Regions from separate parts of the Homo sapiens genome. Here region 1 is linked to region 2. Evidence: fine-mapped expression QTL. Tissue or cell type: whole blood. Region 2 holds a variant in brackets; the other region holds the start of a gene. All regions are shown on one strand. Distances are between the middles of the regions.

Region 1 (6,820 bases), 150 kb after region 2:
AAGTGCTGGGATTCTCAGTGAACCACTGCACCAGGGTCAGCCATCTCCTTTTAAGTGAAAATTTGGTCAGTCTCATGACTTCCGATTACTCTTTGGTTAAAAAAATATATATATAAAATATACATACATAAAAAATACATATATAAAATATATATATTAAAAATACATATAAAAATATGTATAAATACATATATATATTAAAAATACATATATATAAATACATATATAAATATATATTAAAATACATATATAAAAATATATATATTAAAAAATACATATATATATTCTGTGATCATTTTAAATTGCCCCACATAGCTACAACAGGCTGGGGCAGGGGGATCACTTGAGGCCAGGAGTTCAAGATCAGCCTGGACAACATAGCAAGACCCCCCATCTCTACAAAAAAATTTTTTTAGACATTAGCTGAGTGTGGTGGTGCATGCCTGTAGTTCCAGCTACTTGGGAGGCTGAGGTGGGAGGATCGCTTGAGCCCAGGAGGTCGAGGCTGCAGTAAGCCATGATCACGGCGCTATACTCCAGCCTGGGCAACGTAGCGAGACCCTGTCTCAGAAAGAAAAAAAAAAGCTACTGCTTGGGTCCTTGCAGACATCCACTGTGTGACCCTCACTCCACATTAATCTTCAAGAAAAGTGATCCAGGTCCTTGCCCCACTTCCTCATCAGCCAGGACCTCCCCGACACTTGGGATACCTGGTTTTAGTTTCAGAGATACCCCTAATGAGGCTTCGGGGAGAAGGAGTTGAAAAGCAGCTGAGAAAAGTGGGCTTGGGGCTGGGCGCGGTGGCTCACGCCTGTCATCCCAGCACTTTGGTAGGCTGAGGCGGGCGGATCCCCTGAGGTTAGGAGATCGAGACCAGCCTGACCAACATGGTGAAATCCCGTCTCTACTAAAAATACAATTAACCAGGTGTGGTGGTGCACACCTGTAATCCCAGCTACTCGGGAGGCTGAGGCAGGCAGGAGAGTCACTTGAACTCGGGAGGCGGAGGTTGCAGTGAGCCGAGATCACGCCATTGCACTCCAGCTTGGGCAACAAGAGCGAAACTCTGCCTCAAAAAAACAAAAGTGCACTTGGAGTCTCTCCCAGCCTGTGTCCCCACGGGTCAAACAGTGATGAATGGGGATCACTGCAGATGCCAGGAGGGCACATGGCACAGTCCCTGGGACAGGGGGACCCTGTCTTGAGGGCCACAGCTGCATGGCCCCGAGACACTACCCGGAGTTGTTTTTGTTTTTTGAAATGGAGTCTTGCTCTATTGCCCAGGGTGGAGTGCAGTGATGTGATCTCGGCTCACTACAACCTCTGCCTCCCGGGCTCAAGCAATTCTTGTGCCTTAGTCTCCTGAGTAGCTGGGATTACAGGCGCCTGCCACCATACCCAGATAATTTTTGCATTTTCTTTTTTTTTTTGAGACGGAGTCTCACTCTGTCGCCCAGGCTGGAGTGCAGTGGTGCAATCTTGGCTCACTGCAAGCTCCGCCTCCTGGGTTCACGCCATTCTCCTGCCTCAGCCTCCCGAGTAGCTGGGACTACAGGCACCCGCCACCACACCCAGCTAATTTTTTTGTATTTTTAGTAGAGCTGGGGTTTCATCGTGTTTGCCAGGATGGTCTCAATCTCCTGATCTCGTGATCTGCCTGCCTTGGCCTCCCGAAGTACTGGGATTACAGGCGTGAGAAGCTGCGCCCGGCCAATTTTTGTATTTTCAGTAGAGACAGGGTTTCACCATTTTGGCCAAGCTGGTCTCGAACTCCTGACCTCAAGTGATCTGCCCGCCTCGGCCTCCCAAAGTGCTGAGATTACAGGTGTTTGCCACTGCACCTGGCCTCCTCCTGAGTTTTTTGAATAAGGGTTTCCGGGAGAGTAGCTCCAGAGAGCAGCAGGCACAGTGCCCTACACAGAGCCGGGACCATGGTCTCTGCTCGGCCTCCAAACACCCATCAGCCTCCTGGACTCTAGGTGAGCCTCCCAGGGCCTCCCCAAGCAGAGGCCTTGAAACCCAAACTCCGGAGACCCAGGAGATCCAGCCCGCAGCCTGGGGAAGGGGTAGGCTGAAGGTTCCCATCCCAGAGGGGTGTCCTCATCCCAGGAGGCGCTGGATGGCACTCGACCTCCTGTTTCCTTATGTGTCCCTGGGGGAATGGGGTCAGCCTCTCCAGGGCCACCATGAGCGTTTCAGGGGAGGAGGGTACAGGTGGCCACTGCCTGGACCCCCAGGAGGGCTCTCGAGACCCTGATGTGGGTAAGCAGTGACGGGAACCAGCACCCGGAGGTCGTTCTTCCGAGGCTGGGCCCATCCCATTTTGGAACGAGTAGCCAGGCTGTCCCTGCCACCCCGGACCCCGAAGTGTGGCCGGGTGGGGCCCCTGACCCTCTCCTGGGCTCCAGGTGCTGTCTCCTGTCTCCATCTTGGGTGCACATGCCAGGCCCCCTGGGTGCCGTGTGCTCCCCACCCCTTCACGCGTGGGCACTGTCTCATCCCTGCCCCAGCCCCCACCCTCAGACCATCAGGTGAAGCCCCTGCACCCACCTGTCTGTCTGAACAAGAGCGTGGCCCTTCCCGCCCTGCCTGCAGTGGCTGTGGCTTCCTGGGGACAGGAGGCAGCTGGGTGGGGATCTGGAGGATGCTCCTCAAGCCCTGCCCTGATGGCTGTGTGTCTCCAAGGAAGTTCCTGCTGCTCTGGGCAGCCTTGCTTTCCCCCACCAAACAAAGGGGTGAAAACCCTTAGAACGCGTTGAGTCTGGGGGTCAGCTCCCTCGTGCCCCAGGAGGCCCCTGCCTCTGCCAGAGGAGTCTGATGTTCCAGGGCTGGGACTCAAGGAGTTTAGGGTGTCCTGTGATTCCGGGGCTCCCCTGCTAAGAGGCCTCACTGTGAGGCCGGGGGCGCTGCCTTGCCAGTCCGCGGGATGATGGGGTGAGGGGCCAGGCGTGCATCTCCAGCCCCCTCCCCATCCCCAAGGCCCCCACGTGGACATGGAGCTGAAAGGTCAAATGTGCTTTAATGCGGGGTGGCTCCCAGGTCCTCCCTGGGCCCCGGGGGAGTGGCGCTGGCTGGGCCTGCCGGCTGCCTGGCCTTCCTTCCCGGCTTTCCCTTCTTGGCCGTCGAGGCCTTTCTCTTGCCAGACAGAATGGGGGCCGGGGTGTTGGTGGCAGGGGGCCCCGGGTGGGGCGGCTGCTCCTCGTCGAGCGCCTTGAAGTTGAAGAAGTAGTCAACGTTGGACACGGTGTCCAGGATCTCAGGCACGCTGTAGTCAAAGGACAGCAGCTCCTCGGGCAGGCACAGCGAGCGGATGTCATCGGCTGAGTTCCCACCACTGCTGTCAGGCAGGGCCGGCCCAGGGACCTCGCACAGGGTACCCTCAGGCTCAGAGGCGCCTGGCAGGCAGTCGAAGAGCTTCATGGCGTCCTCCAGCAGAACCTTGTCAGGCAGTGCCAAAGCTCTGGCCGTCTTGGGGGCCTTGGCCTTGCCTGCTCCCAGCAGGGCCCCCTCCTTGACCTCGGCCACCTTGAGCTCGCTGAGGCCCGGTGGGTACAGGGGCACCCCAGGTCGGGCCCCACTGCCCTGCAGCTCCTTGACGGGGAAGGCCAGGGGTTCGGGCCCAGGGAAGTGGCCGAGGTGACCCTGGAGGTGGCTGTAGGCGTCTGGGGGCAGTGTGGGCTCTGCAGGCAGCGTGATGAGTACAGGGGGCGGCTTGTTCTCCTTGGGGGGTGGGGGTGGCAGCGGGGCCGGGCCTTCCTCTAGGGGCGGTAGGGGCAGCTCCACGAAGGCGGCGGGCCCTGCGTCCCCCACAAAACCCAGAGCCTCTGGCCCGGGGCCCTCAGGCGGGAAGTAGGGCAAGAGAAACTGGGGCCCCCCGGGTGCCTGCTGGTAGTGGGGGTATGGAGGCAGCCCCGGGGCCTTGAGGTAGGGCTGAGGCTCCAGGAGGTAGCTGCCTGGGGCGGAGGGGACCCCCGCTGGCCCCCCGCTGCTTGCTGCCAGCTTATACAGGGCTGACTGGCCCAGGTCGGGGGTGGTCCACTCGATCCGATAGATGCGGGGGTCGAAGAAGCACCCGCATGGGGCCATCTGGAAACCTGTGGGCGGCAGGCGGGTGCCCTGAGAGCAGCTGCTGCCTGAGGGGCCCAGCCCAAGCCTGGGGGCCTGTTTGGGAGATGCCACAAGAACCTTGCCATTGGGGGGCCCCTTTGGGGGACGACATAGATATTGCTTTGGGGCCCTGGCTGGGTGATGGATGACACAGAGCTTGTCTTTGGGGCTCATCTGGGGGACCTGTGTGAAGCATGGGGAGCAGAGGCCATGCCTTCAGGCTCCCACTTAGGGACGGGGCAGGGGCAAGATGGGCCTGCACACTCAAACCCACTCCCAGCCTCGTCAAGGGCTCAGGGGAGGCCGGTACCTGCTGGTGGGGCTGGAAACACCTCTTTCTCTGGGTCTGGGGGATGATACAGGTTCAAGGAGCCTGTGGACAAAGGTGCCCAGGTGGGTAGGGCCCTTAGGCGGGTGGGCCCCTGAACCCTCTCCAGCAGGTGCTCCCACCCACCCGATCGTACCCATAGCGGGAGGAGGCTCGGCACAGGTGGGAGCAGGCTGGTTGCCCAGCACCTCAGCCCCCTCCAGACTCTGCGGGCTGAAACCTTCCTGGGGAGCTGCAGGGGCACAGAACGGTTTGGGGTGCTGCATGGGGCAGCGGGGGGCCCGGTCCAGACAGGCCAGGAGGGCGGCAGTGGGAGTGCAAGTGGCCCAACCGGAGAACAGGCTGAGAACCTGGTGGGGTTCTGTTTGCCTGGTTACTCGGGGCAGCGGGTTCCAGCCTGCAGCGCGCCCACTGGTTGGGGTTCTGGGTGTTGGGGGCAAGCAGGGGCAGACGTTGGCAGACATGGTCATCACCATGGGAGGGAGGATTCTGGGCCAGGCCTTTGCCTCTTCCAGCAACACCCCCCTAACAGCTTTGAGGCCGCCTCCTCCAGGCAGGCTGCCCTGATCCACACCCACACAGGCTGAGGCCCCCCGGGTCCTCAACCCGCTACCTTCTTGGGGGTCAAGGCCTCTCTGGGCACCAGCAGCACCCAGCTTGGGGCAGGGCCCATGGAGGCAGCTAAGAGGTTTGGGGAAGGTGGGGGCCGAGGAGGGGCTGCTTCAGGGTCACAGAAAGGCCTGGATTTTAAAAGAATAAAATTTATTGTACTCTCCTCGCCCCAGGGTGCCCCTGGGAAAGCCTGAGGCTACTTGTACGCGTTGGCCTTGTGCTTCGGCAAGAAGGCGAAGCTGGGGGGCACTGGCCCAAGGAGCATCTCGCTGTGGGAGAGCAGGTGGAAAGCGAGGTCAGGCCCAGGACCTGCAAAGTACCCTCCGTGACCCCGGGCCCCCGACTGCAGCTCCCCAACTCCAGCCCACCCAGGCACCTGATGCGGATCCAGTCGGCTGCCTTCTGGCTGGCCATCAGCGTCTCCAGGTAGTCGCGGCCCAGGTAGTAGGGCGGCCGCTCGTTGATCCTCTGTGGGAGCCGCTCCAGCAGCCCCACGGGCACGTACCTGCGGCGGGTGGGCGGGCAGGACAGGCTTGAGTCAGCTCTAACCAGCCGCGGCCCACGCGCCGCCCACCCCAGCCAGCCCCGGTGCCCACCGGCACAGGAAGGACAGCCACTCGAGCAGAAAGCGCCGGGTCTTCTCCACGCCCTGCGTGTCCGAGCCCCAGTGCTCCAGGCCGTAGTTGGTGAAGTCCCGCAGGATGTCCAGGCGCTCGGACGACGAGATGTCCCAGTGCCGCTGCTCCTTGATCTCCGTGAAGAGCCACGGCTTGAGCAGGGCGCCACTGTGGGACGGGTGACGATCAGTGGGCCCAGCCACCAGCCTGCCTGGGATCGTGTGGCCTCTGCTTCCATGGCCTGGCCTGAGCCGGAGCCCAGACCACAAAACCTACAAGCCTAGTAAGCCTCCCAGCTGCATGCACACAACCTTCAAAGCACAGGACTTTCTTTTGTTTTTTCTGAGACGGAGTCTGGCTCTGTCGCCCAGGCTGGGGTGCAGTGGTAAGATCTCGGCTCACTGTTCAACCTCCGTCTCCCAGGTTCAGGCAATTGTCCTGCCTCAGCCTCCCTAGTAGTTGGGATTACAGGCGTGTACCACTACACCTGGCTAATTTTTGTATTTTTAATAGAGATGTTTCACCATGTTGGTCAGGCTAGTCTTGAACCTCCGACCTCAAATGATCGGCGTGCCTTGGCCTCCCAAAGTGCTGGGATTACAGGCGTGAGCCACACACCTGGCCAAAGCCCAGGACTTTCAACCCACAATCATCAGATCCCACAGCAGCAGCAATTTCCAGTCCCCTCTGCCGCAACGCAGCTGCAACTCCTGACATCGCTCTCTGCTCCTCCCATCTTGGGACCAACAGCCCACCACAGAACAGGGGTGGGTGACGGCGTGTTGGGTTCAGGGCACTGCTGCTGTGCATGAAGCTGGATCTCTAACATCCCTGGGCACTTACCGGGCAATCATGATCCCGGTGACACCAGTCTGCATGGCGCGGTTGGCATCCTCAAATGACAAGATGTCCCCATTTCCTGAGGAGACAGAGGCTGGGGTCTCAGGGAGACATGGGCAGGTGGGACCCTGGAGTTCTGCTCACCAGCCCTTCAGGAGTTTTGGCTGACCCAGTGGCTCCCATCAGGGTGGTACGAGGGGGTCCCAAGTGGGAAGGCGAACAGCCCAGAGGTGTGAGTGACCAAGGGTGGTAGGGGAGAGGGAGGTGGCTTCCCGGAACACCCACCGAACAGGGGCATGGGGCTGGCGGCCTGCAC
Region 2 (7,835 bases):
TATCAGAAAATTGTCACTTTTCTCCACAGTAACCTAAAAGGAAATTTTATAATGTGTTCCATAATAGTCTAAAAAGAAAATGCACAAGAATAACTAAAATTCTGGGCGGGGGGGAATACAGGGATTTCCTCTAATTTTGATGATAGGATATTGCAAACAACAGAAAGTTTGAGGGTTTGTTCATTTGATGGTGGGGGAAAGCTCTAATCTTATCTCTTCTTGTGTAAAATAGAAATTCCAGCTAGTTTAATACTTTTTATAATATAGTAATAAGAAAGACCTGAAGTAAGAATAAAACTGAGAAACAACAAAGAAAGAGAAATTTGGCTACATAAAAGTTTTAACTCTCTGTTAAGAAAGGTATGCAACAGTCTGGGAGAAAATATTATAGCACAGAATAAGGAAGAAACTCATATCCAGAAAGCATTGAATGTTCTGACAAATCAGTAAGGAAAACAGGCAACCCAGTCAACAAGGAGCAGAGACTATGAACAGGCAATTTACAAATAAATGAAAAAGCAGATGTGGCCTAGAGACCAAAAGATTCCCTTGCTGGTAGTTGCAGAATAGCAAATTTTGAAATGACATAAGATTTTTGCCTATCAAACTGGTAAAAATTTACACAGTTCCGCAAGGTGCGGTGACTCAAACCTGTAATCCTAGCACTTTGGGAGGCTGAGGTGGGCGGGTCACTCTAGGTAAAGAGTTTGAGACCAGCCTGGCCAACATGGAGAAACCTTGTCTCTACAAAAAAATACAAAATTAACCGGGTGTGGTGGCACGTGCCGGTAATCCCAGCTACTCGGGAGGCTGAGGCAGGAGAATCACTTGAACCCAGGAGGCGGAGGTTCCGGTGAGCCGAGATCACGCCATTGCACTCCAGCCTGGGCAACAAGAGCGAAACTCCATCTCAAAAAAAAATTTTTTTTACACAGTTCCTGTTCTCCTACATTGGCAAGGGTATTGGGGAAGGTGTAGGTGTTGGAGACAATAAATTGCTACAGCCTTTTTGAGAAGGCAGCTAACGTGGGGAACTGCCGTAGCATGGAGTCAAAGATGGAGGTGGATCAATACGCAGTACATAAAAATGTCCAAGGCCTGTTAGTAGTTTCTGTAACTTGTGTCATTGCTCACTAACAATAAGATTTCATCTCATCACAAGCTTATTTCCATATGTATCATATAATGTATGTAGATGCAAGATGATGTCCTGAGGCACCACCAAGCTGGGAACGTTGGTAACCTCTTAAGAGGACAGTAGGGAAAAGGGAAGGTATTATAGCTTTATACTTCCTATACTTAGGAGGATGAATCTTCTGTTACTGCAGTAAAGTTTAATACGTATATTTGCATAATTAGGGAAGTGTGTTTGTGTAATCAAATCAGAAAGTAATGAACCACCCACATGCAGCCCTGGGTACTATGGGAGCATCCCAGCAGAAGTCCAGGGCAGCAGAGTCAGCAGTGAGATTGGACAGTCTCTGAGGCAGAAGCTTAACAGAAGGCAAGAGATGGAATCCCAGGCAGGGAGCTACGAGCAGGCGATAGAGGCGATGACGGTCATGCCCATAGCTGAGACCACAAACTAGGGTGAAGAGCTGAGGTAGAAGGATTCAAGGGGCACATTGGCCTTGATACTAAAGACAAATCAATGGCTCTTCAGTTTTTGCCAGAGAGTTATACTTTTCCCATTTGCATTCATTTTTGGTTTTTTTAGACGTTTTTCTTCTCTGGAGAATACTGTCTTTCCTCAAGTCGTGATGATTAATAAACATTCCAGTCAGGGATGTGCTTTATACGTTGAAGATTAAACATTTTGAAGATTGCATGTTCTCTCGACATTTCCAGTCACATTTTACCTCGGGGGAGCTTTCCCCTGAGAAGGATTTGGCTGCAGTGTACCTGTACATACTGCTTGGGAGAAAAGTGGTCATAGAAGTGGAAAACCCTGATTCTGTTTGATGAAAATCTAGTACCCCTCCTGAGGAAGAGAGAACACCGTATGGAGGGCAGCAAGTTTCTGATAAGTTAGTAGATTTTTCCTATTATCTGGAATAGGATTGGACAGAAACCAACGTACGTATCATAGAATTGTAGCAACTTTATCAAATGTAATCATTCTGTGGCAATGCTCTGGTATCTCTTCCCAGCATGTTTACAGAGACCACTGGGTTGAGTTCCAGCTGTTTTTTAGACCTCGAGGCATGTTTTGCCAAAGAAATAATGGTATAAAATGGGGATGGATTTCCCAGCCAACTGACCAAAATATCATGTATTGAATTCTGTTATCAGTTTGATAGTCCCCTATCTTTGTAAATAAGGTAATTCTAAAAATATGAATGAAATTAGAATATTTAAACGTCAATTACAGTACAAATAATTAGGTTTGGAATTTTTGTCTTTGGCTTTTCTTTTTTTCTCCCCCCAGGATGTTACATATTTATCCAGTTACAAGAATAGTTTCCAGTATAGACAAATTAATTGTCTTTTCTTTTTTCTTTGAGACAGGGTCTGACTCTGTCACCCAGGCTGAGTGCAGTGGCACAATCTCAGCTCACCGCAACCTCCACCTCCTGGGTTCAAGTGATTTTCCTGTCTCAGCCTCCCGAGTAGCTGGGATTACAGGTGCCTGACACCACACCTGGCTAATTTTTATATTTTTAGTAGAGACAGGGTCTCACCGTGTTGACCAGGCTGGTCTCAAACTCCTGACCTCAAGTGATCCACCCACCTCGGCCTCCCAAAGTGCTGGGATTATAGGTGTGAGCCACAGTGTCAGACCTTGTTTCCTTAATACTGCTTGAAACAACACTTAGCCTTAAAACAATTGATTTTCGGCCGGGCGTGGTGGCTCACGCCTGTAATCCTAGCACTTCGGGAGGCCGAGGCGGGTGGATCACGAGGTCAGGAGATCGAGACCATCCTGGCTAACACGGTGAAACCCCGTCTCTACTAAAAATACAAAAAATAAGCCGGGCGTGATGGCGGGTGCCTGTAGTCCCAGCTACTCGGGAGGCTGAGGCAGGAGAATGGCGTGAACCCGGGAGGTGGAGCTTGCAGTGAGCCAAGATCGTGCCACTGCTCTCCAGCCTGGGCTACAGAGCCAGACTCCATCTCAAAAAAAAAAAAAAAAAATTGATTTTCAGGCTGGATGTGGTGACTCGTGCCTGTAATCCCAGCACTTTGAGAGGCCCAAGCAGGAGACTCACTTGAGAGCCTAGGAGTTCAAGACCAGCCTGGGCAACATAGTGAGACCCCACTGCTACATAAAATACAAAAATTAGCCAAGCATGGTGGCACGTGCCTGTAGTTCCAGCTACTCGGGAGACTGAGGTGGGAGGATCCCTTGAGGATCCCT[T/C]GATGCTGGGAGGCAGAGGCTGCAGTGAGCCAAGACATGCCACTGCACTCCAGCCTTGGTGACGGGGTCAGACCCTGTCTCCAAAAAAAAATAGACTATTCTTCACACTGGGAAAGAGGCCTGGCAGGAAGTAGTTTTCCCAAAGTTGTGTGTTTGATCAGCTTTTCTCCCATGTTCTTCAAAAAGCTGAGCACCGCCTTCTATAAGGAATGCTAGGAAGCTGTGCTGGCAGTAGCTCTAAAACATGAAATGATGCTACATTATGCCTTGCCTTTGAGATGTGGTCTTCCAGAGTCTATTTCATGGATTTCATGCATGTGATTTTATTCTTCACATGGAAGACAGTCAAAGAGTTTAATTTGAGCATGCCTATTCCTGACACCAGAAATTTCATTTTTGCCATGCCTAATGACTTCCATTTTTGCTTCAGTTCTGTTATTTCTGGTATCATCGTTTACATTTTTCTATTCTCTACTCATTTTATCATTTGTATGAAAAAGCAAATGACTATATAAATACTGCTGTTTGGATGAAGGTGCCAGCATGCCTGCCCTTGTGAACTGTTGCAAATGTTATAAATCATCAATTAGTAAGAAAAATTGGGAGGTTGCACAAGGGGAGTTGGGGAAATGACTTCCCTGTTCTTAGCATTGTTGGCTGACAGGAGAAGTATGAACCTAAGAAGGTATGCAGCCTCTTGATGTTTTTCACATTTTTTAAAATTACTAAACTCTTTTTATTTTATTTATTTTGAGATGGAGTCTGTCTCTGTCACCCACACCAGAGTGCAGTGGCTCAATCTCATCTCACTGCAACCTCTGCCTCCTGGGTTCAAGCGATTCTCCTGCGTCAACCCCCCCACCGAGTAGCTGGGATTACAGGCACCTGCCACCATGTCCTTCTAATTTTTGTATTTTTAGTAGAGCTGGGGTTTCACCATGTTGGCCAGGCTGGTCTCAAACTCCTGACCTCAGGTGACCCACCCACCTCGACCTCCCAAAGTGCTGAGATTACAGGTGTGAGCCACCACGCCCAGCCTAAAATTACTAAACTCTTGAAGAAAAACCTGGAGTTAAGCCATACCTTCCAATCGTTTTTTAGTTTCTTTTTTTTTATACTTAATCTTAGTCTTTTTTTTTTTTTTTTTTTTTTAAAGACAGTCTGTCTTGCTCTGTCACCCAGGCTGGAGTGCAGTAGTGTGTTCTCGCCTCATTGCAATTTCCACTTCCCGGGTTCAAGCGATTCTCCTGCCTCATCCTCCCCAAGCTGGGATTACAGGCGCCTGCCACCACGCCTGGCTAATTTTTTTGTATTTTTAGTAGAGACGCGGTTTTGCCATGTTGGCCAGGCTGTTCTCAAACTCTTCTCTTGACCTCAGATGATCCACCCGCCTTGGCCTCCCAAAGTGGTGGGATTATAGGCATGAGCCACCACGCCTGGCAAGTATTTTCTATTTAGAAAAACATGGTAATGCCACATATCTAAAACTGGAACAAAAATAACAGATCAGTGGAAGAGAATGGAAACAAGTAATCCCAGACATAAATACAAATATAATATTGCGGAAGCCAACATTTCAAATTGGTCGGGGGCAAGTACTATTTAGTCAGTGGTGCTGGGAAATCAGTTTCCAAATGGGACAACTATTGGGAAAATAGTCTCACTCAACATGAAACTGAGAGAATAAATGTTTAAAACTTCAAAAGAACTAAATACAGGTGTATATTATTTAGCCTTCAGTATGGAGGAGGACATCCAAGCATGAAGGTATAAACCACTTACATTTTAAAAACAATTAATAGCTTGGCCACATAAGAGTGAAATGGGCCAGGGCGCGGTGGCTCATGTCTGTAATCCCAGCACTTTGGGAGGCTGAGGCAGGTGGATCACCTGAGGTCAGGAGTTTGAGACCAGCCTGGCCAACATGGTGAAACCCCATCTCTACTAAAAATACAAAAATTAACTGGGTGTAGTGGCAGGCGCCTGTAATCCCAGCTACTCAGGCGGCTGAGGCAGGAGAATCACTTGAACCCAGGAGGCAGAGGTTGCAGTGAGCTGAGATCAGGCCACTGCACTCCAGCCTGGGTGACAGAGCAAGACTCCGTCCCAAAAAAAAAAAAAAAGAACAGTGAAGTGTACTCAAAACCTGTAAACAAAATTTAAAAACTGGTAAAGAACTGGGAAAATATGTTTTGTACATATGATATATAAACTTCAAATGATGGGGGATGGAGCCGAAGTGTTTTGTTTGTTTGTTTTGTTTTGTTTTTGAGATGGAGTTTTGCTTTTGTTGCCCAGGCTGGAGTGCAACGGCAGGATCTCGGCTCACCGCAACCTCCACCCCCTGGGTTCAAGCGATTCTCCTGCCTCAGCCTCCCAAGTAGCTGGGATTACAGTCATGCCCCACCACACCTGGCTAATTTTGTTTTTTGTTTTTTTGGTTTTTTTTAGTAGAGACAGGGTTTCTCCATGTCAGTCAGGCTAGTCCCGAAATCCTGACCTCAGGTGATCCGCCTGCCTCGGCCTCCCAAGTGCTGGGATTACAGGCGTGAGCCACCGCGCCTGGCTGGAGCCGAAGTTTTTAAATAGTGGGGTGTAAATCAGAAATTTTTAGAAAAGTACAGGTGATCAACAACAAAAAGCAAATGATTCAAAGCAATTTGAGTAGTCAGGAGATAAATTCGTGTTAAAACAGTATTCCTTTTCTTACCTAGCATATTGGCAAAGATAAAGAAAAATAGCAAATTTTTAACAGAGATTCAAGAAAGATTGGCTTTTTTTTTTTTTTTTTTTTTTTCTGGAGATGGAGTCTCGCTCTGTTGCCAGACTGGAGTGCAGTGGTGTGATCTCGGCTAACTGCAACCTCTGCCTCCCGGATTCAAGCGATTCTCCTGCCTCAGCCTCCCGAGTGGCTGGGACTACAAGTGCACGAGATTGGCACTTTTTAATTCGCTGTTGATGGAAATGTATAAGTTAAAAAAAAACCTTCCTCTGCAATTTTTGTTTTGTTTTGTTTTGTTTTTGAGACAGAGTCTTGCTCTGTCATCCAGGCTGGAGTGCAGCGGCACGATCTCAGCTCACTGCAACCTAAACCTCCAGAGTTCAAGCGATTTTCCTGCCTCCGCCTCCTGAGTAGCTGAGATTACTGGCAACCGCCACCACAACCAGCTAGTTTTTTGTATTTTTAGTTGAGACAGGGTTTCGTCAGGTTGGCCAGGCTGGTGTCAAACTCCTGACCTCAAGTGATCCACCTGTCTCGGCCTCCTAATGTGCTGGACTTAACAGGCATGAGCCACCGTGCCCAGCCCCTCTGGAGTATCTTGATAGTATGTGGGTTTTTTGTTTTTCTTTTTTTTTTTTTTTTAACCGAGTTTCGCTCTTGTTGCCCAGGCTGGAGTGCAGTGGCGCAGTCTCGGCTCAGTGCAACCTCCGCCTCCTGGGTTCAAGTGATTGTCCTGTATTTTTAGTAGAGACGGGGTTTCACCATGTTTTCCAGGCTGGTCTCGAACTCCTGACCTCAGGTGATCCGCCCGCCTAGGCCTCCCAAAGTGCTGGGATTACAGGCGTAAGCCATCGCATCCGGCCCTTCTTTTTTCTTTTTAAGCATTAAAAATGTGCATACTCGGGCATGCGCAGTTTCTGTGGGAAAACATGTTCCTTAACTAAAAGGCAGCACATTTGCAACAAATAATTTTTCCCTCAAACAAGGACACTTGGGATAGGAAGAAGGGCAGAGCTGAGGACAGGTCTGATCCTGTTCAACTTTACTAAGAACCTGTTTTCTGCACTTCTACTTCCACAGCTCAGACAAGAACAGAACCTCTTCTGCTTGGGGGTGGGGCAGGGCTGTCTTGTGCGGAATGGCCTCATTCCTGGATTAGGAAGTGTTCCTAAGTAGTGAGGTGTCTCAGATGTTTATAAAGTGACCACTTGTGTAGTGCTCAGGGCATTGTTGCTTCTGTAAAGTGCGTATCATTTGATCTCATGCTGTAAATGATTCTGTCTTCAGGGCGCAAACCAGAAGAAGAGGGTGTGGAAGATAACGGGCTGGAGGAAAACTCTGGGGATGGACAGGTATGTGCAGCCTTGCGAGTGAGTAGCGTGGTGGATGGACCAGTGGCGGTCACATGATGGTTCGGTCTGGTTGTGTCACAGGAGGATGTTGAGACCAGTCTGGAGAACTTGCAGGACATCGACATCATGGATATCAGTGTGTTGGATGAAGCAGAAATTGATAATGGAAGCGTTGCAGATTGTGTCGAAGACGATGATGCTGATAACCTCCAGGAGTCCCTGTCGGATAGTAGAGAGCTAGTCGAGGGGGAAATGAAAGAGCTTCCGGAGCAGCTTCAGGAACATGCTGTAGGTAACCGGCAATGTCTCTAGAATGTGCCCTGAATGTATCAGTTCCACAATTAAAATAGGTGATCAGTTTCATATTGGGAAGTAAGTTGTTCTGTAATGCCAGTTCAGTAGA

The links. PIP is the estimated chance that this variant, and not a neighbour inherited with it, causes the effect.
Region 1: PRR22 starts here. The variant in region 2 is fine-mapped to the expression of PRR22 in whole blood (TOPMed, PIP 0.97).

Annotation. Positions count from the first base shown.
Region 1 is chr19:5,779,960-5,786,779 of GRCh38, forward strand. It overlaps PRR22 (proline rich 22), which reads right to left and starts at 4,787. Exons shown (of 3, transcript NM_001134316.2): 1 at 4,572-4,787; 2 at 4,418-4,480; 3 at 3,001-4,094. The coding sequence starts at 4,701. The coding sequence ends at 3,019. DUS3L (dihydrouridine synthase 3 like) reads right to left here. Exons shown (of 13, transcript NM_020175.3): 9 at 6,790-6,820; 10 at 6,508-6,583; 11 at 5,644-5,832; 12 at 5,424-5,552; 13 at 5,181-5,316. The coding sequence ends at 5,244. RefSeq lists a silencer at 773-951.
Region 2 is chr19:5,634,227-5,642,061 of GRCh38, forward strand. SAFB (scaffold attachment factor B) reads left to right here. Exons shown (of 21, transcript NM_001201338.2): 3 at 7,368-7,432; 4 at 7,514-7,720. Among named protein-coding and RNA genes, the nearest start is that of SAFB, 15 kb to the left of the region's middle. The variant T/C (reference allele first, on the strand shown) is at 3,359.